Regions from separate parts of the Homo sapiens genome. Here all the other regions are reported to be linked to region 6. The links are microRNA targets in miRTarBase. Many come from high-throughput screens and were not tested one by one. Region 6 holds a microRNA gene; each other region holds the end of a gene's coding sequence. Distances are from middle to middle.
The links. The annotated mature microRNA hsa-miR-23c reads AUCACAUUGCCAGUGAUUACCC and lies in region 6 at 1,434-1,455, shown strand. An mRNA with a match to its seed (bases 2 to 7 or 8) in the 3' UTR can be bound and repressed. Matches are read on the target gene's strand: a 7mer-m8 pairs with bases 2 to 8, a 7mer-A1 pairs with bases 2 to 7 and ends in A, and an 8mer does both.

Region 1: the mRNA of FOXR2 is a reported target of hsa-miR-23c. Seed matches in the 3' UTR shown: 7mer-A1 at 2,032-2,038 and 8mer at 1,503-1,510.
Region 2: the mRNA of BSDC1 is a reported target of hsa-miR-23c. The part of its 3' UTR that is shown has no 7-base or 8-base seed match.
Region 3: the mRNA of SWAP70 is a reported target of hsa-miR-23c. Seed matches in the 3' UTR shown: 7mer-m8 at 1,936-1,942 and 7mer-A1 at 602-608.
Region 4: miRTarBase lists UQCRFS1 as a target of hsa-miR-23c. Seed matches in the 3' UTR shown: 8mer at 2,300-2,307 and 8mer at 1,001-1,008.
Region 5: the mRNA of ZNF669 is a reported target of hsa-miR-23c. Seed matches in the 3' UTR shown: 8mer at 2,877-2,884.
Region 7: the mRNA of CRLS1 is a reported target of hsa-miR-23c. Seed matches in the 3' UTR shown: 8mer at 113-120.

Annotation. Positions count from the first base shown.
Region 1 is chrX:55,624,010-55,627,092 of GRCh38, reverse strand. It overlaps FOXR2 (forkhead box R2), which reads right to left. Exons shown (of 1, transcript NM_198451.4): 1 at 901-3,083. The coding sequence ends at 2,446. Among named protein-coding and RNA genes, the nearest start is that of FOXR2, 2.2 kb to the right of the region's middle.
Region 2 is chr1:32,363,992-32,367,074 of GRCh38, forward strand. It overlaps BSDC1 (BSD domain containing 1), which reads right to left. Exons shown (of 11, transcript NM_018045.8): 11 at 642-2,663. The coding sequence ends at 2,631. TSSK3 (testis specific serine kinase 3) reads left to right here. Exons shown (of 2, transcript NM_052841.4): 2 at 1-321. The coding sequence ends at 265. Among named protein-coding and RNA genes, the nearest start is that of TSSK3, 3.0 kb to the left of the region's middle.
Region 3 is chr11:9,749,697-9,752,779 of GRCh38, reverse strand. It overlaps SWAP70 (switching B cell complex subunit SWAP70), which reads right to left. Exons shown (of 12, transcript NM_015055.4): 12 at 1-2,916. The coding sequence ends at 2,810. Among named protein-coding and RNA genes, the nearest start is that of SBF2-AS1, 7.1 kb to the left of the region's middle.
Region 4 is chr19:29,205,111-29,208,193 of GRCh38, forward strand. It overlaps UQCRFS1 (ubiquinol-cytochrome c reductase, Rieske iron-sulfur polypeptide 1), which reads right to left. Exons shown (of 2, transcript NM_006003.3): 2 at 210-3,048. The coding sequence ends at 2,438. Among named protein-coding and RNA genes, the nearest start is that of UQCRFS1, 6.5 kb to the right of the region's middle.
Region 5 is chr1:247,097,457-247,100,531 of GRCh38, forward strand. It overlaps ZNF669 (zinc finger protein 669), which reads right to left. Exons shown (of 4, transcript NM_001142572.2): 4 at 2,506-3,075. The coding sequence ends at 2,918. Among named protein-coding and RNA genes, the nearest start is that of ZNF669, 5.4 kb to the right of the region's middle.
Region 6 is chrX:20,015,473-20,018,555 of GRCh38, reverse strand. It overlaps MIR23C (microRNA 23c), which reads left to right and starts at 1,369; the gene lies at 1,369-1,468. It overlaps MAP7D2 (MAP7 domain containing 2), which reads left to right. Exons shown (of 17, transcript NM_001168465.2): 11 at 2,231-2,462.
Region 7 is chr20:6,036,799-6,039,881 of GRCh38, reverse strand. CRLS1 (cardiolipin synthase 1) reads right to left here. Exons shown (of 7, transcript NM_019095.6): 7 at 1-2,808. The coding sequence ends at 2,724. Among named protein-coding and RNA genes, the nearest start is that of LRRN4, 16 kb to the left of the region's middle.

The sequences.
Region 1 (3,083 bases), 36 Mb from region 6:
CTATGTGTGATTTTTCTGGAGTTTGATAAGTTTGCTTGCAGTACATTTTCTTTAAAAGAATGGGCAGCTACATGCATACTTCAAAAATATTTTCCTATAAAAAGAAGTTATATAGGTTGTGTTTGCTATCTTAATTTTAGTTGTATTCTTTGATGTTAACATATTTTGTATAATTGTATTTTATAGCTGTATTGAATCGTGTAGTATCAAATATTAGATGTGATTTAATAGTGTTAAATTTAAACCCATTTTTAGTCATTTTTCCAAAACATACTGCCAGATGCAGATGTTCAGTGTAATTTCTTTGCTTGTTCATTTACAGAAAAAGGTGCTCAGTTGTAGAAAGTATTGTACCTTTTAACACCTGATGCATACATCACATGTAACAGGAAAAGCAACAATAAAGTAGCAATCATTAAGAAAAAATACGGCAGAACAAGCTCTATAAGCACAGTCTTATTTTCTTTTGTTATCCAGAATTCTTATGATTCTTAAGCCTCCTAGAAATTGGAAGCTGAATGAAGCAACTCAAGTTTCCTTTATTTTGCACTCGATTACAGCAATTTATAATTTTTTTAAAAAGTTCCTCTGAAGGTATATCTGGATCATGACATTACTGAAGAAGCACCATATCCAGCCACTGCTTTTTTTCATGCAACCAGAGAGCAGAAATAAGGATCAGAAAATACTGAATAGAGTTCAAAGCTCAGAGGTACCAGGTTGCAGCAGAAAACTCCAGGTCTAGTTCTAAAAATGAAAGCTTGCCTTGTTTGAGAAGTTTACAGACTAGGCATATTAGAAGTGTAGTTTGTGATAAAAATAGTCTCATTAATTTCACATCCAGCTCTTTTACTAGTAAGTGTTAATCTGGGAGAAAAATGAGAAGCAACTGGTGACTACTTATATGCAGAATATTTTATTAATTCCAAGGTATTCTGTTAACTTGGTCTTTGCCTTATGATACAGAAGTAGCATTTACAATTTTTTTCAAAAAATACTGTTTGCATATGTTGTTTTGTGATTTAACCTAAATATACAATTTTGTATGAGGTATAATACATCATTATAAAAATGTGAACTTTGAAAATAGTTACAATTATATTGAATTAATTGCTTTTGTAGCTTACAGGCGTTTTTGTACCCCCATTATGAAGGTTTTGCAACTAAATTTATACCTAAAAATCTATTTTCTCCTGGATATATGTTAATATCATTGAAGCAAAAAGCTATGCTTAAATCTGATAAACAAAAGTTTATTTGCATAGAAAAGATGTTAAAGATAATTTTGAAATTAGAAAAACAAATGCTGTAGTGTTTGTTGTTGCTGCTGGCTTGTTTCTTTTTTTGTTTTTTAGCAAAACTCCACTGATGTCTCTTGGCTCCTAAAAACCCACAAGATGAAGTCCAAACACCTAATAGTTTTCTCTTAGTCACTCACGGTCCTCATGTAGTTAAGTCACACTGAACTTCATGCCATTCCCCCAAACACTCCATCCACTTTGTTCACATTGTTGTCTCTGTAATGCCTCTACTCCAGTTTGCCATTTATTCTTCAAAACTAGCTCAAAATGTATTTTTTCCAATGCCCTTTCATGTCTTTCCCAGGAAGAATGTCTCCCCATTTCCATGTCAATTTCTCACATCTGTTTCATCATATTTACATTATAAATATGTCTCCCACTAGTATCCCTCAGCTTTTTATCCTCAGCATCTAAGATGGACCTTGACACATTAGCATATCCTCAATAAAATCTTGAGAACTAAAAATAATAGAAAATAAAGCTTTATCATCAAAAGGCTTGGGGTTAATACAGGAATATTTCACAGGACGTTAAACATACAAACTAAAAGTAGCTGTTTAGAATTATTTGTCAATATTGGAATTGGATGACAAAGAAACAAGGCTTAGAAGTCCAGGGCCAGAAATAGAAAAGTGAGGTTCTGAAGGATAAAATGGGTTACTTAAAAAGGAGATGTAGCTGATGAATGGTAGAAGGGGAAACTTGATTCTTCATCACAAGTCAAATTCTCTTCACATGGCACTCGAGGTTCTCCATGGCTCGGCTCCATCCTGCCTTTTATGCTTTATATTCCACTGTTCACTTTCATGTGTGAAAATACTCTCTATAAACAAAATTCCTTTCTTTCACAAAACACACCCTTCTTTCCTTAGTTTCTATGCCATTGTTTCTAGGATTTCTTTTCCTTTGCTCAAAATTTGGAACAACAGCCACTCTCCTCGTGCGACTTTCCATGACTCTCCACCTGGATTTAAGTTCTGTCTCCCCTGTACCCACCTCTAACTTTACTTAACACCATTATTGTAACAGTAGCTAAAGACAGACTTGGCACCAACCAGGCTGGGTAAGTTTAGAGATTAATGAATGTCAGGGGATAAGTAGGCACAGTAAGGAAGGCAGTGTTCCAAAAGGGAGCAATGGCATTTCAAAGATCAAAGAGAGAGGTCAACAACTCTGGCTGACTCATGCACTCTTGGATTCTCTCCCTTTGAGCAAAGGCTAAGACACGAGTCTCCTCCCAAAAGCGGCGGTGCCCCTCCTTAGTGAGCTTCCAAAGGCAAGAGCGAGGTCTTGCATTATCTTCATCCTTAAGGCTGTCTGGCACCTTCTCAAAGCTGTCCAGGAAGCAGAGGTTGTAATGAATGGTGCTCTTCCAGCCATCCGGAGCTGTCCAGAAAAAGGGGAAATGCTGTCGGGTGAAATTGTAGATCTCCTGCACACTGAGGCCACAGTGGGGGTTGTTTCTTAATGCTAGGGCAATAAGGTGGCTACAATTGAGAGGGGGCCTTTGCCAGGACTTCTCTTGGTTGTTGATTTGCCATAGTTTCTGGCTCTGGTAACATTTCATTTCAGGGGACTGGAGGGAGTTGTCGTCTGGTTCCTCAGCCTCCTCTTCTGTGAGCTCAAAGTCACTGGGGGAATGGATACCCTGCTTCTGTAAAGGAGACTGCTCACTGGAGGAAGATGGCAGAGACTCTACCACTTTGTCCTCTGAGCAGTTAGACCCTTCGTCTTTTTGTGGGGGCTGAGGGAAAGGAGAAATGTTTGTCAGATCCTCTTTTC
Region 2 (3,083 bases), not on the chromosome of region 6:
GCAGGGCATTCCCCACGATAGCAAAAAAGGTGATGTCTGGAGCATGGGTGTGGTCCTGTATGTCATGCTCTGTGCCAGCCTACCTTTTGACGACACAGACATCCCCAAGATGCTGTGGCAGCAGCAGAAGGGGGTGTCCTTCCCCACTCATCTGAGCATCTCGGCCGATTGCCAGGACCTGCTCAAGAGGCTCCTGGAACCCGATATGATCCTCCGGCCTTCAATTGAAGAAGTTAGTTGGCATCCATGGCTAGCAAGCACTTGATAAAAGCAATGGCAAGTGCTCTCCAATAAAGTAGGGGGAGAAAGCAAACCCAAAAACCCGCTTCTAAAATGGTGATATATATTTTACGCTTTAAGTTTACTTATCCTAAAACTTACCTACATCTACCCCAGCCTTACTACTACTCTTTCCTTTTAGAGATCTTCATGGAATCAAAGGGCCTCATTCAGACTTCCTTTTTTTTTTTTAAGAGTCTTGCTCTGTCGCCCAGGCTGGAATGCAGTGGCACGATTCCAGTTCACTGCAACTCTGCTTCCCAGGTTCAAGCGATTCTCCTGCCTCAGCCTCCCCAGTAGCTGGGATTACAGGCACCTCCCACCACGCCTGGCTATTTCTGTATTTTTAGTAGAGATGGGGTTTCACCATGTTGGCCAGGCTGGTCTGGAACTCCTGACCTTAGTGATCCACCCACCTTGGCCTCCCAAAATGTTGGGATTACAGGCATGAGCCACTGCGCCTGGCATGACAAGTGATTTTCATACTAAAGTTAATTAAAATAGACCCAAGAATCATATACAAACAGGGGGAAGAGAGGATAAAAATGACCAAGAGCAACTGAAGCCATTCTTGTTGCAACTTCCTTTCCAAAGGAAAGCAGAGGCACTGGGAGTGCAGAGATGGCCTCCCGACTCCTTGTCCCAGTGAGAGGCCTGTTGCGAGCCCTGACCCTTTCTCATCCCAAAGGCAAAGCTGAATCTGGGATGAGGACAAGGTACGTCCTCTGGACCTAGGCTATCCCCCTACCCTGTCTCTGGCTCCAAGTGGGAAGCCAGTCCTGCCCTGGCCCAGTGCAGCTGCCAAGGGGACAAAAACAGACCCCCAGACACCTTTCAGCTTCGGGTGAATCACTTTAATGCTGTTAACGGCAAGTCTGTAAAAGGTTCAGGACAAAGTTCTTTTTTCTTTCTTTTTTAATTATAAAACTAACAGCTGTTAGAATCTTTTTTTCTTTTTTTCCTTTTTTCTTTTCCCAGCTACAAAATACTCTGGGGAGATGCATTATAATTTAAAATATATAATATTGCACAAACAACCAAAAGGTTAATTAAACTAAAGAAATAATTACAAAGAGAAAAACCCCATCCCGTCAAAAAAAAGATTCAGCATTCTCTCCATCCCACCCCCTCACTGAAGGTTTGAAGTGGAAGTGACCTCACTCTCTCGGTGTCCCTGACCCACGATCCCTTTCACTCATTGGTGAGCACACCAGATTAGGTACAAGAATCACCAGAGCAGCATCGTGAAGCACCAGGCTCTCCAGAGATTCCTGCAGCCCCTCATTCCCCCAGAGGTGCAGCTTTACCAGAGTGGAGGGTGAGAGCACAAAGGCTGGGTCTGTCTTCAGGAAGAAGAGCTTTTGCAGAAGCCTGATGAGAGTTTCAAGTTCACCCCCAGGATAGCCCTTCCAGAAGCAGAAGGGCTGAGGCGGAGAAGCTAGGCTTACCAGAGTTGTAAGTACTCGGCTTTGATCACCGCTCTGTACCGCTGGTAGCTGTTTTGTGTCCTAAACTACAGGGGAGTTGAGGTGGGTAGCTGGTTGGACAAGGTATCCTGCCAGGCAACACACAGAAGGGCCTGAAGTAGCCCCCTCCCTTCTTGGGGAGGGGAAGAAACGCAAGAGCGAACTCCTGCAGGTGGCACAGCTGGGCTAAGGACTTGGGTGCATCCGACATGAAGAAGCCCTGGGAAGGCATGGGGACAGACCAGCGTGGGCTGGAGGAAAGGAAGGAGGTGGGTCAGGGTTTGGTCTCTGGATTCTGAACCCCAAAGGAGCCTTTCCAGGAATGGAAAATGCCTGGGAGGGGGAGAGTCCCAAGAGAGGCAAATTTCCCAGAGATAAGTGCCTCTTACCCACTGGGATAGGAACCAAAATGTGTTCACTGTCCCTGTTTAGCCAAGGGTAGGTGGCATGGCCCTCCCTGCCTGCTTATGTATGGACAGAGTATGTTGTCTCAGCTTCCTCCGAGAGAGACTGGTGGTTTAGCTTCTGTCTACACAGGCAGAAGGGCTAGAACTATCCCTTGGGACTTCCCAGCAGGAGTCCTCAGGAACAGTGGGTGTTCAGCAGAAAAACACAGGCTCTTCTGGTGAGGAGGATAGGTTTCCTCTCCCTTGGGTCATCCTATTGTTGGCACAAGTCAGAGTTTCTGGCCGGGATTTAGAGAGCCCCTTCCCAGGTGTGAGCAGAGGCCCAAGAGGGCCAGCAGGGAGCCACCAGAATCTGTGCCCAGAGCTCTGGTTGGCAGAGGAGATTTGGGGGAACATTCTCAGTCTTCCAGGGCTGGGCTGAGACGAGCGAGGGAGGCGAGAGATGCCATGGGTGGGGGAGCTGCTCCCTCTGGCTCCCTCACTCCCAGTCCTCCCACTCTACATCTTCCAGCTGCAAATGGGAGGGGGTAATGGAAATCACAAACACATAGTTACTCCTGAGTCAGGCCCAGACCTAACCTCCACTTGCTGAGCAGAGCCACCTCCCATCCCCTACCCCAGGCCATACTCTGAGGTCCCACTGAGAGTGAACCCCTAGTCTTAAGGAATGTGTCTGAGGGGCAGAGCTGCCCTCTGCCTGAGGGGTGGGCCTGATGCTCTGATTACCTCAGACCTAAAGGAAACACTTCCCCCAACCAACACCAGACACCACAAGGTGATGGCTGCCTACAGGAACCAAGTCAGCCTCAGTCCTTTAAGGAGAACTTGCCTCCTGCTGAGCAGATAATGCCATGGCTCTGAGAAGCAGAGAACTCAGGAGGCCTGAGCAGATACTTGGCCCTGGACACAAAAGACCAGTGTAATCAAGGGC
Region 3 (3,083 bases), not on the chromosome of region 6:
AACATAGCACATCACAAAAATACATTTCAAAAACTTTTTTCATATATAATTCCTGTAAATGATCATATCCCTACTTATTAAGGAAAACACCTGATGACAAGCACTCAAACACTCTTGAAATTTTCTGTACAGTAATTACAAAAGTAAAACCAAGAGTTCTGTTGGCCCTTTAACAGGTGAAACCATTTTAAATAGTATCAAAATATAATTCCAAATGGGATATACTTAGTTCATTTCTGTGCTATCTTTGATTCACAAGTATCTATCTTAGCCAAAGCACTGTTTAAAAGGATATTGCCTCCTAGACATAGTGCCACTGAAAACCAAGATGTAAATCGGTAACACTATGCATTAAACAGAAAGCTTTTGCACAACCACATATGTAACCGCTTAGTCGTATCAAGGTCCACATGTGACCAGAAAGCAGGCAGTCCTTAGGTGGATGGCCAGGGGCCAGGCAGTGTGAGGTCTCCAAGAACCCAGGGCTAGAGCAGCTAAGCCCCAGGTCATGTTATCAGCTACAGCTGTGGAATAAGCCAGGTTTAAAGAAGGACATTCTGCAAAAGTGCAGGACCTATTTCACAACTTCTAGAAGTAGAAATTCACATATTCCATCATGATCCTCCCCACCATGCAGAGACTATTTGACTCCTAAGGCCACACTGTTTCCATCCCATAGATTTCACAGAGGTGATTAGGTTCTTTGTAGAATACTTTTTCCTCATTCTGGAATGAGGGATACTGGAGTCTTCTGGTGTAATGTGCAGTCAAACCACAGGAAAGGTTCCATTCCTTACCTAAGTCTCGTTGGTCTAATACACCTGCCAGCTACTGAATAAAATGATAATACTGATAAATGGCTGGGCAGAAATCCAACACCCAAATCAGCTGTCAAATTTCAAAGGCACATGATACAAAAATATTTTAGACAATACACTTTATAAAGGCAACTATAAGAAACCGTTAAAGTTACATTTTTATTAAACAGCCAAAAATCTTAAGACAAATACCTACAGACCATTTCTTCATTGGCAAATATTTTCCAGTCATAAAAGGTGATAATTTATGGGATTATATTCCAGTTTCCTCTCATGTAAATAAATACATACACTGAATCTCTAATACCACTCTCTCTAGATGTATACATCTATTTGGAATTGCTTTCTTAGTATGCACTCAGCAAGCACTAGCATAAGAACACCTGAGGTTCTCTGTCCTCATTTAATACCTGTAAGAGAAAAGGACTTTATTCTACTGAATTCTGCCCTTTTTTTGCAACAACTGAATTATCCCCATATTTATTTACAATTTTAAGCTTGATTGCTGTCCACGGAGTTACTGTTGCTTCTCAATTATAACTAGTGTTAGAAGGCTTGATTTCATAAATGTTCTTTTTAATCCAAAGATAGATCATATATGAAAACCTTCCTCAATACTCCTTTCAAATCAGATGCATATAAACTATGATCCCAATTTCCCTGTTAGACGTATTTCTGTTGGATATTTCCTCCGTTGTCACCACAGAGGAAGGGAAAAAGCAGAAAAGCTGCCCACCTAACAAAGGCTAACATAATGGCTAGGCTAATATATTGACATGCTATCATCTTTATGATGTTTTGAATCTAACTAGCAGACATACAGTCAACTTCCTGTTGACCATGTGCATCTAATCTGCTTTCTTAATTATACAAATAATTTTTATTTCAAATTAGCTTCTTTCTACTACTCAGTATAATCCTCTCACAGCCTGGCATATACTTGGTAGCACATCATTCACTAGAGAGAGTACGAGAGAAAATTAGGTTGACAATATGGGGCAAAGGGGTAGTCTCCTTTAAGGTGAGGGGAAAGGAGATGGGAATGAAACATGCCAAGTGTATGATGGTTAGGGAAAGAAATATCTTAGTAGAAGCTAGAAAACCTCTACTAACAGGATCACATTCCAAAAGGGCAACCAGGAAATGGCAATGACTCCATGACTTCTCTGTCAGAGCACCAATGGTCAAAGGCATTCCATGTCAAGTGTCAGGAAATGGAAAGCGAACCGGCCAATCTAGTTTAACAGCACATACTCGGAAAAGGAAACACGCTGCCAAAGGAAAGAGCTGACATCCAGTCCACAGAGGTTCTGAGTACCCAGTGGCAGTGAGCCCCTCCAAACTCTGCAGAGCTGACTGTGCTGTCTGCACCCTGCCTCATTTGGGGAAGAATCTGAGAGAGCTAAAAGACAAATTTCAGAAGGTGATGTTTTCAAAGAAAGAGTAAACAAACAGCTTGACAATGTTGACTTTTTTTTTCTTTTCAGGTAACCCTTGTTTGCAGGAAGATAAATAAGAAGGCTTCCTTAGGATACTGACCCACTTAGAGAGGCACAGAAGGAAGAAGAGTTAAAAGCAGCAAAGCCGGGTTTTTTTGTTTTGTTTTGTTTTGTTTTGTTTTGAGATGGAGTCTCACTCTGTTGCCCAAGCTGGAGTACAACGGCATGATCTCAGCTCGCTGCAACCTCCGCCTCCCACGTTCAAGTGATTCTCCTGCCTCAGCCTCCCAAGTAGCTGGGATTACAGGCGCCCGCCACCACGCTCAGCTAATTTTTTTTGTATTTTTAGTAGAGACAGGGTTTCACCAGGTTGGCCAGGCTGCTCTTGAACTCCTGACCTCAGGTGATCCACCCGCCTCGGCCTCCCAAAGTGCTGGGATTACAGGCGTGAGCCACCACGCCCGGCCCCCAAAGCTGTTTCTTTTGTCTTTAGCGTAAAGCTCTCCTGCCATGCAGTATCTACATAACTGACGTGACTGCCAGCAAGCTCAGTCACTCCGTGGTCTTTTTCTCTTTCCAGTTCTTCTCTCTCTCTTCAAGTTCTGCCTCAGTGAAAGCTGCAGGTCCCCAGTTAGTGATCAGGTGAGGGTTCTTTGAACCTAAGAGGCAAACATGCTTTAAATACAGGAAGTATTATATTCTTCAGGATACCCCATCATTTTTCTACAGACAAAATAGTAACTTCCCTACTTTATTTCTTCTTTGAGGAACATGCATAAATGTCATACCAGCTAAAACAATTAGAAGATGTATACCAAGGGGATTA
Region 4 (3,083 bases), not on the chromosome of region 6:
TTGAGTTTAAGGTGTCAACAGGACATCCAAACATATATGCCCAGTAAGCACATGAATATGAAACTCAGGGAAGTGGTTGTGGGGAGTCACCAGCAAATAGGTGGTGATAAAGTGTGTTAGAACAGTGGGCTAAGGATAACAGTCCATAAAATATAAACATTATTTTGGGTTAATATACAAAATGCAATGAAATTCAAACGACATGAAAATACAGAAAATGAAATTTAGTACTGTGAGAATGAAGAATTACTTCTGATATTTAAATAGTATGTTCCTACAGTTTAGAAAAATGAGGGTACTAAAGCACATTTTGATCCAGTCAGGACAAATGCCCTCTATACACTCAGATTGAGTCAAAGTTTTTACAAAGGTATGCTCAGAAAGACCAAAGAAAATTTGATGTTATCTTTAACAAATAATGCAACATTTTCAAAAAGGCCATTTTTATAACACTTTTTAAAGCATAATGAAAACACTTGGCTCTCAAGATTGTCCCAAGAATTATCCCCAATAAAATGCAGTAGGTTAATGATCTGATGTCAGGGTGCTAGCTGGTCAGGTTTATTCTGTAAGTAATTTTCTCCTACTATCTAGGATTTTGTTTTCACAGAATGGTAAAAATGTTAACACAGGTCTGCCGTATCCATTCAGCAAAACAGCATGAAGTGACTTGACTTGTCCTGTCACTTGTGGAACAAAGCCTTCTTTAAAAACTAAATGGTCTACTACAATTTAACAGCATCCCACCATCAAACTCTAAATATGAAAGATGAAGTAAGCAGCCACCAAATATAGCAATTCCGGCACTAAGTGAGTACCTAGAGACCTGCAAACTTCCTACTTCTGTCCTCCACTGCCATGTAGAATTTCAAGGTATCACTTCAGGGTGGGAGGTGATATAGGTTATCAGTATTTCTCTATAGGGAGGGGGTGCTGTTGACATTTTTGGCAGCACAGGTTTTTTAGTGTGTGGACCTGTGTTCCCCTCACAACTCAATGTTTCACATTCCAACTCTGCCACCAACCCTTCCTCCAACCCCCAATCCGAAGAGTGCCTCCACTATCTAGAGACACAGAATATAAAATACTTCTGTGTCCCACCAATTATCACACATGCTAATTTCATTTCTAGAATGGTAAAAATGAAGCAAAGACTAGTATCTACTCATAAGCATAGAAAGTTTGACATTTTCTTTTTTCTGTCAACACCTAGCTATTAACATCAAAGGCTGGAATCCTGGATGGTCAGTTCCCTTTGGGCAGACCCAACCTAACCATTTTTGCCATTTTAAAAAAGTGTACATGAGATTATCAGGTAGACTCAGTAAAGCACGACTGGTCCACCTCTAAACAGCAAAGACAAACACATCAAAAAGTGACTGTGATTCTCAAAGGACAAAGCCCACTCCCAACTCCCAGGGGAAAATGGACCTTAGTCTTGTTTCACCTGTGTAATTGGAGGCAGAATAGGATGTGAATTCCGATGTGCTCTGCGTCTGGTTCCACACCATCTTACAGTGAAAAGTGCTGAGTGACTGTAAACCCAACAGGAAAAAACATTCAAAGTGTCATCACTACAGAAACAAACCCAGCAGGACCACTTCTGCATGCAGGCAGTATTAGGTCTCAGATGCTCCCTTTCTGCCTCCTGATAGAGTGGATGCAGGAACTTTGGGGACATGATGAACCACACACAAAATGAACGAAATGGCAGAGCACTCTCATTTTGGAAAGTTTCTCTCAGGTAATATCCCATCACTGCCTATTAAGACTAAAGGATTAAGTACTAATTTACACTCATAAGGGACTAATAAAATTTCCTGGCCTGTCACTTAAGGAGAAAAACCAGCAGACCAGACGTGAAGATAAACCCTCAGAGCTACTAATGCCTCATTCAGGACTCTTTCCCACAGATTAGTGTTGAGATTATCACACGGCTTACACAGTAGGGAGGAAATGCATAGCCAGGACTCTTACCAAGTCCGGTAAATAAGGAATACCTAGATACTACTGTTTCTGTCAATGCCATAGACACTTAGATGACCCGTTAATTTTACTTCATCCCAACAATGACCGTGCAGAATCTGCGTCCCTGACGCAAAGCAGGAAGCAAATATTTGGGCAAGAAAATAAAGTCAGTTACAGATTTCACAAGTATCTTGTACACCAGTCTGTAATTTTTAATTAGAATTAGCTAAAAGACATTGTACCTTTCGCGTGTATGACTGAGCATAACAGTGCTTAACAGTGTCTTTATTAAGTGAATGCCTGAAAGTATTCAACATTAAATTCAATTTATTTCACATTAATGTTTGCAAATACATCATCAATTCTTACATATTTCAAATCAACTTCAAGTACAGAAGGCTTCCTCTCAAATAAGTCTCCTGAGGTGACATAAAGACTGAAAGAAGCCTATGACTTGAGTCCAAGTCTCTTAACCAACAATCACCATATCGTCACTGGTGAACTCATACGTGGGGACTTCAAGGTTGAGAGGAGCAGGACCCAATCTGATCCTGCCAGATGCATCATAGTGTGACCCATGGCAAGGGCAGTAATAACCACCAAAATCTCCTGCATTTGCAATGGGTACACAGCCAAGATGAGTGCAAACACCTATCAGGATAACCCATTCAGGTTTCTTTACTCGATCTAGATCATGCTGTGGGTCCCTCAACTGTGATAATTCAACTGCAGCTTCCTGCTCAATTTCCTTCTGGGTTCTATGACGCACAAACAGGGGTTTGCCTCTCCATTTGAAAGCCATGTTCTTGCCTTCTGGAATATCGGATAACTTGATTTCGATTTTCGCCAGGGCCAACACATCAGCAGAAGCACTCATGCTGGAAACGAACTGGGTGACGGCATTCTTGGCAGCATATGCGACACCCACAGTAGTTACTCCAGTTACCAAATAGGAGAAACCTTTCCTAGCCTCGCTGCTTTCTCTTGAAGACTTCGTACTATCTAAAACTTCAAGGCGGCGGTATTCAGAGAAGTCAGGCACCTTGATGTCTGTGTGGGAATAACAAACAGAAGCAGGGACTGCAAGACAAACAGAAGGTTAAAAAACACAATTA
Region 5 (3,075 bases), not on the chromosome of region 6:
ATGAGGGCTGCTCCATTCCATTTGTGTTGCCAATTGTTTCAATAGCGTCTCATGCACCCCATTGGTGAGGAAGGAATTAGCACCCTATGTCTACTGGTACCGTTAAACACATGACATCTATTACTAAACAGATAAACTAAACATCAGTTATTAATTACATACAGGAGGATGGTGTAAGCTCCCACAGGCCCAAACAGGGATTAACTTGGGAGCAGAGAGTGGTACAGCATTAAAAAAGTGAGGATGTTCCTTTGTTCCTACAGGAGTATGTGATTGGTTTGTCTGTTGGCTGGTAGGGAACTGAATCATGTGACACTGACTGGTAAGACTGTAATACTGTAAAATACACAAACTATAATACCGTAACGGTGTAATACTATATACAATACCAAAGGCATTGATGAAAAACCCAACGCTATCACATGTGACTGTGAGACTGAATGCTTCCTCCCTCAGACTGGTTACAACATATTGTCCTATCACAGTTCTCTCTCCTTCATTCAAAGTGAACTATGCAAATAACAGACAGAAATAATAAAGAATAAAGGGCAACAAATGCAAAGAACTCACGAGATGATACTCTATGATAAACTTTATGTACTTAGGAATTAATACCAACTCATTATTAGCAAAAAATAAACATCTTTACACCAAGAGTAGTTTTTCCTTTAATAAAAAAAGGTGGAATGTGTATAATGGACAAGGGATAACCAAAATTTGCCAAGTGAGGCTAGTAAGAAAATCGCAACAATTAGCAATCATTACTCACTGGTCCATTAATCACAGAACAATACATACAAATTAAACTTACTCCGCTGGGCACAGTGGCTCATGCCTGTAATCCCAGCACTTTGGGAGGCTGAGGGGGGGCAAATCATGAGGTCAGGAGTTCAAGACCAGCCTAGCCAACATGGTGAAACCCTGTCTCTACTAAAAATACAAAAAATTAGCTGGACATAGTGGTGGGCGCCTGTAATCCCAGCTACTCGGGAGGCTGAGGCAGGAGAATTGCTTAAACCCAGGAGGCAGAGGTTGCAGTGAGCCAAGACCGCACCACTGCACTCCAGCCTGGGCAACAGAGTGAGACTCCATCTCAAAAAAATAATAATAAAATAAAAAAATTAAACTTACCTACATATTAGAAAAACATCAAAATTCAACCATGAATCCAGCACATTATCAAATGAACAGACAAAAATTCTACCAACAAACTGAAGAAAGTATCATTACTATGAAATTCAAGTACTGCTTAAAAAGCATTTACAGAACTCTCACCTCAAGGTTTTCCTGCAAAATAAAGTGAAATGCATACTCAAGACTCTTTAAGAATGAGCCACTGATGAAAACAATATACTTGCAACTTGTGTAACATTTCATACATGTACATTTTTTTCAAGCACCGCACGATAATTAATTTGCATCAGGCTTTCCAAATTAGAAAAACTTCACTTATAGAACTTCTTTCCAGTGGGAGTTTTCACGACTTTTCAAATAAATGTTAAAACTGAAAATATTCTTGCAGTTTCTAAATATTAGTTGTAATCCTGTGTACATTTTTGTATTTACAAGGTCCAGCTGCAGTGTGCATTTTCACATGTCCTTGAGCAGATATGAGAGAAATGAAAACATTCCCACATTCTGGACATTCATAGGGTTTTTCTCAGGAATGAGTTGATGTCTTCAAACGGAACTAAAACAACTGAAGGCCTTAACACAAATTTAAATTTAAAAGGCTCTTCTCCACTCTGAGTCCTCCCAAATCTTCAAAATAGGAAAATCTGAAGGCTTGACCACATTTCCTACATTCTTAAGGTTTTCTGAAGTGTGAGCTCTTTCATGTTTATGAGGGAATGGGAAAGAGTAAATGCTTTACCACATTTCTTACACGCATAAGGCCTTTTTTTTGAGACGGAGTCTCACTCTGTTGCCAGGCTGGAGTGCAGTGGCACAATTTCAGCTCACTGCAACCTCTGCCTCCTGGGTTCAAGTGATTCTCCTGCCTCAGCCTCCTGAGTAGCTGGGACTACAGACACCCGCCAACACACCCAGCTAATTTTTGTATTTTTAGTAGAGACAGGGTTTCACCATGTTGGCCAGGATGGTCTCGATCTCTTGACCTTGTGATCCACCCACCTCGGCCTCCCAAAGTGCTGGGATTACAGGCGTGAGCCACCATGCCCAGCCGCATAGGGCTTTTTTGAGATGGAGTCTCACTCTGTCACCAGGCTGGAGTGCAGTGGTGCCATCTCAGCTAACTGCAACCTCCAACTCCCCGGTTCAAACGATTCTCCTGCCTCAGCCTCCTGAGTAGCTGGGATTACAAGCATATGCCACCACACCCAGCTAATTTTTGTGTTTTTAGTAGAGACGAGGTTTCACCATGTTGGCCAGGATGGTCTCAATCTCCCGACCTCGTGATCTGCATGCACAGGGCTTCCCCGCCTGCTGCGCACGGCTTTTCATGTCCTTGAAAAACAACTAAGACAACTGCAATGTGCCACCATGCCCAGCTAATTATTTTTTTATTTTATTTTATCTTATTTTTTGAGACAGAGTCTCACTCTGTCACCCAGGCTGAAGTGCAGTGGTGCGATCTCGGCTCACTGCAAGTTCCGCCTCCCGGGTTCATGCCATTCTCCTGCCTCAGCCTCCCGAGTAACTGGGACCACAGGCGTCTGCCACCACGCCCAGCTAATTTTTTGTATTTTTAGTAGAGACGGGGTTTCACCGTGTTGGCCAGGATGGTCTCGATCTCCTGACCTCGTGATCCACCCGCCTCGGCCTCCCAAAGTGCTGGGATTACAGGCGTAAGCCACCGTGCCCGGCATTATTTTATTTTTTGTAAAGACAGGGTTTCACCATGTTGCCCAGGTTGTTTCACATTGTTTTAATCCAGGCTGGTTATGAACTCCTGGGCTCAAGCAATCCACACGCCTTGGCCTCCCAAAGTGCTGGGATTATAGGCTGAGTCACTACACCCAGCCTCTATATCATGACTTCTTTCATGGCGAGTAAGGTGACTGGAACGAGTGTAGGCTTTACCGCATTTCTTACATTCATAGGGTTTTTCTCCAG
Region 6 (3,083 bases):
CACAAGAATCACTTGAACCCAGGAGGCAGAGGTTGTAGTGAGCCAAGATCACACCACTGTACTCCAGCCTGGGCAACAGAGTGAGACTCCATCTCAAAAAAAAAAAAAAAAAAAAGGACAAGATTTCCCTGGAGGTGCTATGGAAAGGACAAGCGGGGTCTCATGGGCTTGTGGGGATTTATATTTTGGGTGATAATGAGGATTATGGAGGTTCAGGGGCCATAAGGATGTTCTTACATGTGTGCATCTGGGCACTTCTGAAGTCCTGATGGTAAAAAACAAGAAACAGAGGCCAAGTGCAGCGGCTCATGCCTATAATCCTAGCACTTTGGGAGGCCGAGGCAGGCAGATCACCTGAGGTCAGGAGTTTGAGACCAGCCTGACCAACATGGTGAAACCCCGTCTCTACTAAAAATACAAAATTAGCCAGACATGGTGGCGCATACCTGTAATCCCAGCTAGTTGGGAGGCTGAGGCAGGAGAATCACTTGCACCTGGGAGGCAGAGGTTGTGGTGAGCCAAGGTTGCACCATTGCACTCCAACCTGGGCAACAACAGTGAAACGCCATCAAAAAAAAAAAAAAAAAAAAGAGAATGGATTTTCAGGTCCTGGAGATGAAGACGGCAGGTCCTTTATGAAGTAGCTTATACATTAATTAATACACAATGTATCCTTTGTGTGTTAACTTCTCTGGGACAATCATAATTGGCTCGTTAATAAAGGGTAAGAAATGAAATGGTACTTCAGTTAACCTTTAGATACATCTTGTTATTAACACATCCATTTTGGATAATCCTGTGTTGGACATAGTATTTCATTGAGGAATCTAAGAAAATGGGAGCTTCTTTCTGATAGGTTCTATAATGCTCCTCTCCAGAATATCTGTTAATAATTTGAGTTGTTTCACAATGGTTTATAGGCATTGTGACCTAATTTAGTGTTATCACGTATTGTTACAGTCTCAGGCTAATATATTTAAGTATTTGTTTATCTTTCTTTTAAAATATTTCTTTGAATGAATAAACAAAATATTTCCTTTGGTCATACATAGGCTGTTAGCCTGCACAAGTTCTGAAGCTGACCATTAGGATGGATGGATGCTCTTTTTAAGTCTTGACCTTTTTATAACAACAGCATCCCAGTAAGTCATTGGCACATGCTTCCAAATGAAGGTAATTTCTAAAGGACATACAGATTTATAGGTGCACTTTAAAGGACATTGGGGCTTGGAGAGAGGATTCATTTTAAATTGTAAAACAAACTAACGTTTGAGAACCTTCTAGGGCCAGGCATTTTCATTCTCACAGTAAAGCCATAGAACAATAGTATAGCTTTTCCCATTTTTTAAATGGGCATCAAGAACATTGAGTGACTTTCCAGGTGTCACACAGTGAGTGGCATAATCAGAGTACAATTTGAGTCATGCCCATACATCACATTGCCAGTGATTACCCAAGGAAAGTGACGTACATGTGAGGAGGAGGAACATTAGAAAGGTTAAAACAAGCTCTTGGACTTTACAGGATTTTCCCTTACTGCTTCGAGCTCTTTACCATTACACCATGAACCATTCATCTGACTGTGGATGAAAATGTCTAAATGCCACTTAATTTTCATATAGCAAAGAAAGCTAAAATAGATTTCTAAAGATTGCCAAAATAAATGGAAATAGAGGTTTTAATTTATTAAATGTCAAGTTTCTGTTGAGCATTTTCTTCCATTTGCTGCTTCATAAGTCACATACCAATTAGAACCAAATTGGTATGACTTTTTGAGTTCGTAGTCACTGCTCTTAAATTGCTGACTGGCACATTTGTGGCCATTGAGACACTTCCCATTTTTCCTAGCTTTCATTGGTTTTAAATATTCTGCTTAGGTTTTAAAAGAATTGTCATTCAATAAGAATGATGGCTTGGCTTTCTGTCACCGTGGTCATTTGTTCATTGACTGAGGAGCATCTGTTTTCAATACAGTATGCGTTACACATCAACACATCATTCATTGCTGTATTACAGAATTTAAAGTCAAGCCTGGTTAATACTTTTTGGTAAATATATGGACCAGAGTGGATTTCCAGGAAGGATGAATCATGTTATTAAATGAATGCTCGTTGAAAGGTATGTGTGTGTGTTACCATGTGGAGCATTATTCTCGGCTGTCAGCACACAGTTCTCTGGCAGTTTGCTTTTCGAGCATGTCATCTTCTAACAACAGTTGTATTCTCAAAAGGCTGGAGAGAGAGGAATTGAAAAGAAAGGCAGAGGAGGAAAGGCTTCGCCTAGAAGAGGAAGCCCGAAAGCAGGAAGAAGAAAGGAAGCGGCAGGAAGAGGAAAAGAAAAAACAGGAAGGGGAAGAGAAAAGAAAGGCAGGCGAGGAGGCCAAGCGGAAGGCTGAGGAGGAGCTGTTGTTGAAAGAAAAGCAAGAACAAGAAAAACAAGAGAAAGCCATGATTGAAAAGCAGGTACTGTATGAGTCCTCAGATGGACTTTACTTGTTTTTTAAGGACCTTGATAGTAGGTACAATTAGTTAAATTTCAATGACTCATAATGTTTACTTGAAGTTTCTTCTTAAACTGTCTGGGCTGGTTATTAAATATAAGTTGGGGCAGTTGCAGTGAAGTTGGTAATGTTTGCCATCTGTGAGTTAGGGTTTCCCCAAAGGCAAACCCTGGGCTAAGAATTTGAGTGCCAGCAGTTTTTTTTGCAAGCGAATCCCAGGAAGCTGGTAGAGGAATAGGAGAAAAGCCAATGTAAGTGCATTGATGCATGTGTTACTGTGGGTGACTGGAACACAGTCCCATTGGGAACCTCTGACAGACTGTGGATCATGCTTTAGAATTGTCCAGCTGAGGGATGAGGAAACTGAACTACTTATCTACCACATCCTGCCCTTCACGGTAGTAGAAGGTCACTCCCTGGGGAATTAACTCTCTGATCTGGCCACATGCACACTTCATGGCCCAAGCCTGCCCACAGACACAGAAAAGCCTTGGCCATGTGTGAGAACTGTCTGCAGGTGATTTGCATGGTGAGCCAGGGGTATATGAATGAGGTCCAACCATGTTTGCTGTGTCATGCAGTG
Region 7 (3,083 bases), not on the chromosome of region 6:
TGTTCCATCTCCTCTCCCAGCTTCGGATGGTTGGCAGCAATCCTCAGTATTCCTTAGCTCGCAGACATCATTCCAATCTATCCCTCCATCATCTCACGGCATTCTCTCTCTGTTCACATTTCCTTTTTTTTTTTTTTTAACAAAAAAACCTAGTTATTGGGGCCCACTGTAATCCAGTATGATCTAATTCTATCTTGACTGCATCTAAAAAGACCCTATTTCCAAATAAGGTCACATGTACAGTACTGGGGGTTTGAACGTGAACGTATCTTTCTTGGGAGATGCGATTCAAGCCACAAGAGCATTTACTTCTACTGTAAGAAGAAAACAAATCGAGTTTAAATCCTATGTATCTTTTGTTTCCAAACCATGCTGCAGAAACTAAAACTGAACTGCACTATATATATTTCTAGGTGTCTGAAGTTTTGAAAGAGCTTCCCAAAACTTTAAGGTAGATCCCTAGTTTCATCATAAATGTAACTAAAAGAATTGGCCTAAATGATTTCAAAGATCTCCACCAGCTCCTGGTTAAAAACTGCAAAGCTATGATGTTGTGGGCTTGTAAAAAAAACAAAATACACACACACACACACACACACACACACACACACACACACACAAACAAAACTGCAAAGCACAGTTGGTGTGCACCTGTAATCCCAGCTACTTGGGAAGCTGAGGTGAAAGGGTCACTTGGGCTCAGGAATGAGGCCCCGACTAAAATTCGCTGCAAAAGCCCAAAATCTAGTTAGCATAAATTCCTCAGACATGTAATTAAATGACACTAATGCTTTAAGCTTACTGTCAAGGTTAAGTCTATTCAGTGAAGACAATGAAATGAATTTTCATCATGTTTTGAGTCTATAAACAAGTACATACTCAGACATGTCTAATACAATTCCAGTGTTTTATAAACTGGCAGAATTGATGTGTTTTATAACAATTCAGTATCCAAAAGCCTGAGGAGACTTGGACCATTTTCCTAAGGGATGAAGCGGGAAACGTTTATTAACCAGAGCCAGATTGAGACCTTAATAATAAAAAGATATGGGTCCAACCCATAGGTCACTCCAAATGGCATCAACACTAAACCATAAATAAGCGTTAACAAAGTGCAAAGTTCTAAATTTTCGCATAGCTACTTCAAGTCCTCTCTTTTTTAAACATTATTCTTATGTGGCTCACCCGTCACTAATGCTCAGTGTGCCTCTTGGGTGGCTCAGCAGTGGGAAGTCCACTTTCAGCCTAACTACTCCTAACAATGAAGCTGTTCTCCAGAGAGCAAGAATAGCCAGCCACATGCCCCCTTCTCTGCTTTTTCATCCCCCTCCATCTGATTCAATGGCGGTGTCCCTGGCTGCAGGCTTCAGTATGCTTCAAGCCAAGCGCAGCTCAGCTGCCAGTCTGAGAACAACCAGGACCAGCAAGCCACAGAGGGACACGCTGGTGCAGAATGCCTGGCCAAGAGGCATGAGTTTTACTTACAGCCTCCCATTCTAATTTAATGCAGCTCAACAGGCTGAGAATGGATAATCTCACTGCAGTATTCCATAATAGGCTTGGATTAAAACCAGGGACAATGGGCAGCAATAGGCCATAGGTTAAGCAGCAGCAACTAGTCACCACTGGACTGTCTTCTTCTCCCCTTCCCCATATCCCACATTCTCCTAAACATGATGTACGTGTAGCAACAGTCTTTTAAAGTCAGATGGTCAGACTAATTATTTTTACAATTTAAGTGTAAGTGATGTACATGAATGGACTCTGTGAATCGGAAAACTTACGTAACAGCAGAGAATACGTATGTTATATGGAACAACCTGAGTTGAAGGTACAATTTTTTTTCCAGCTCTTTTATTCCTTTAACTGCTTAACAAAAGAAAGAGTCTCCAAAGTTTAAAAAACCTTTGAAAAATATACAGCTTGATATTATTTACATAAAATATGAATCCAGGTTCCAATATCAAACAAACATTGCTATGTCAGAAACACAGTGGAAGGCAGGAACGTAACTCACTGCCTTTTAGATGCAAAGACTAATAGACACGTTCTCCTATCTCGACTATCTTTGTTACCTGTTATCCTCAAACATAAATTATTAGGCACCTGAGAGGTTGGAAGACTACCGAAAATGAACTTCATACCTTCTGTATGATTATTATCTTAAAAAGTTACCGCATTTTTAATCTCTTTTATAACTTTACTTCATCTACAACTAACTTCACTTTCATTATCCCAAATGATCAGGTATTAATTACATGAACTGTTAATGTATACACAGACCTAAAAATCAAACAAAAATGTATTGCCCAGTTGTGTAGGATATATATTTGAACCCCATGACATTTCCTAGTGCTTTGTGAGCAATCCAAATTTCACTTAAAAGAGAGGTGTCAATTCTGCCCATGCTCTGGACTATGTTTTTAAAAAACATACAAAAAAGACTGACAATAATTGATCTCTTATAAATTAATCAAGAAACCTAAGATTAAAAATTCTAAATTACAATTTTATTTGTATTTAAAAATACATTGGAAATTCTGCATATTCCCATGATCAACCTTATTTTCAATGCACATTACTTAAATTTTGATGACACAGTTGATTCTGACAAGTCCTTTTTCAAGCTGAACACCAAAATAGGGAAACTCCTGTACATTTCCATGGGCCCTGTTCCCATTGATGTATACTGCTTCCTTACTAACAGTGAGGGATGACTTTCATCAGTCTTTTATCACCTGAACAGTCTTCCGGCCATAATGATAGTAACTATAAGCTGATGCAGCTGTGGTGAAAGCTGTAAAACACCTTTTATGGAAGAAAAGAAATAAAATGTAGTTGTCAAGTCTAAAAAATAGTAGCAACGGGAATCATAATGAATACATGCAATGAATTTAAAATGTAAAAATGAATTTAAAAAGTAAAAAGGGCTCTGTGGTGTAATTTTTCTTAACTACAAGAGTCTAAATACACTGCTTTTCTTTAAGAGTTCATTTTAATTAGTAACGTCAAACAAAATTATTCTAGATAATGAGCCCTACAAATTACTACTACTAGCAACTGTCATTTTTTACTCGGGCATC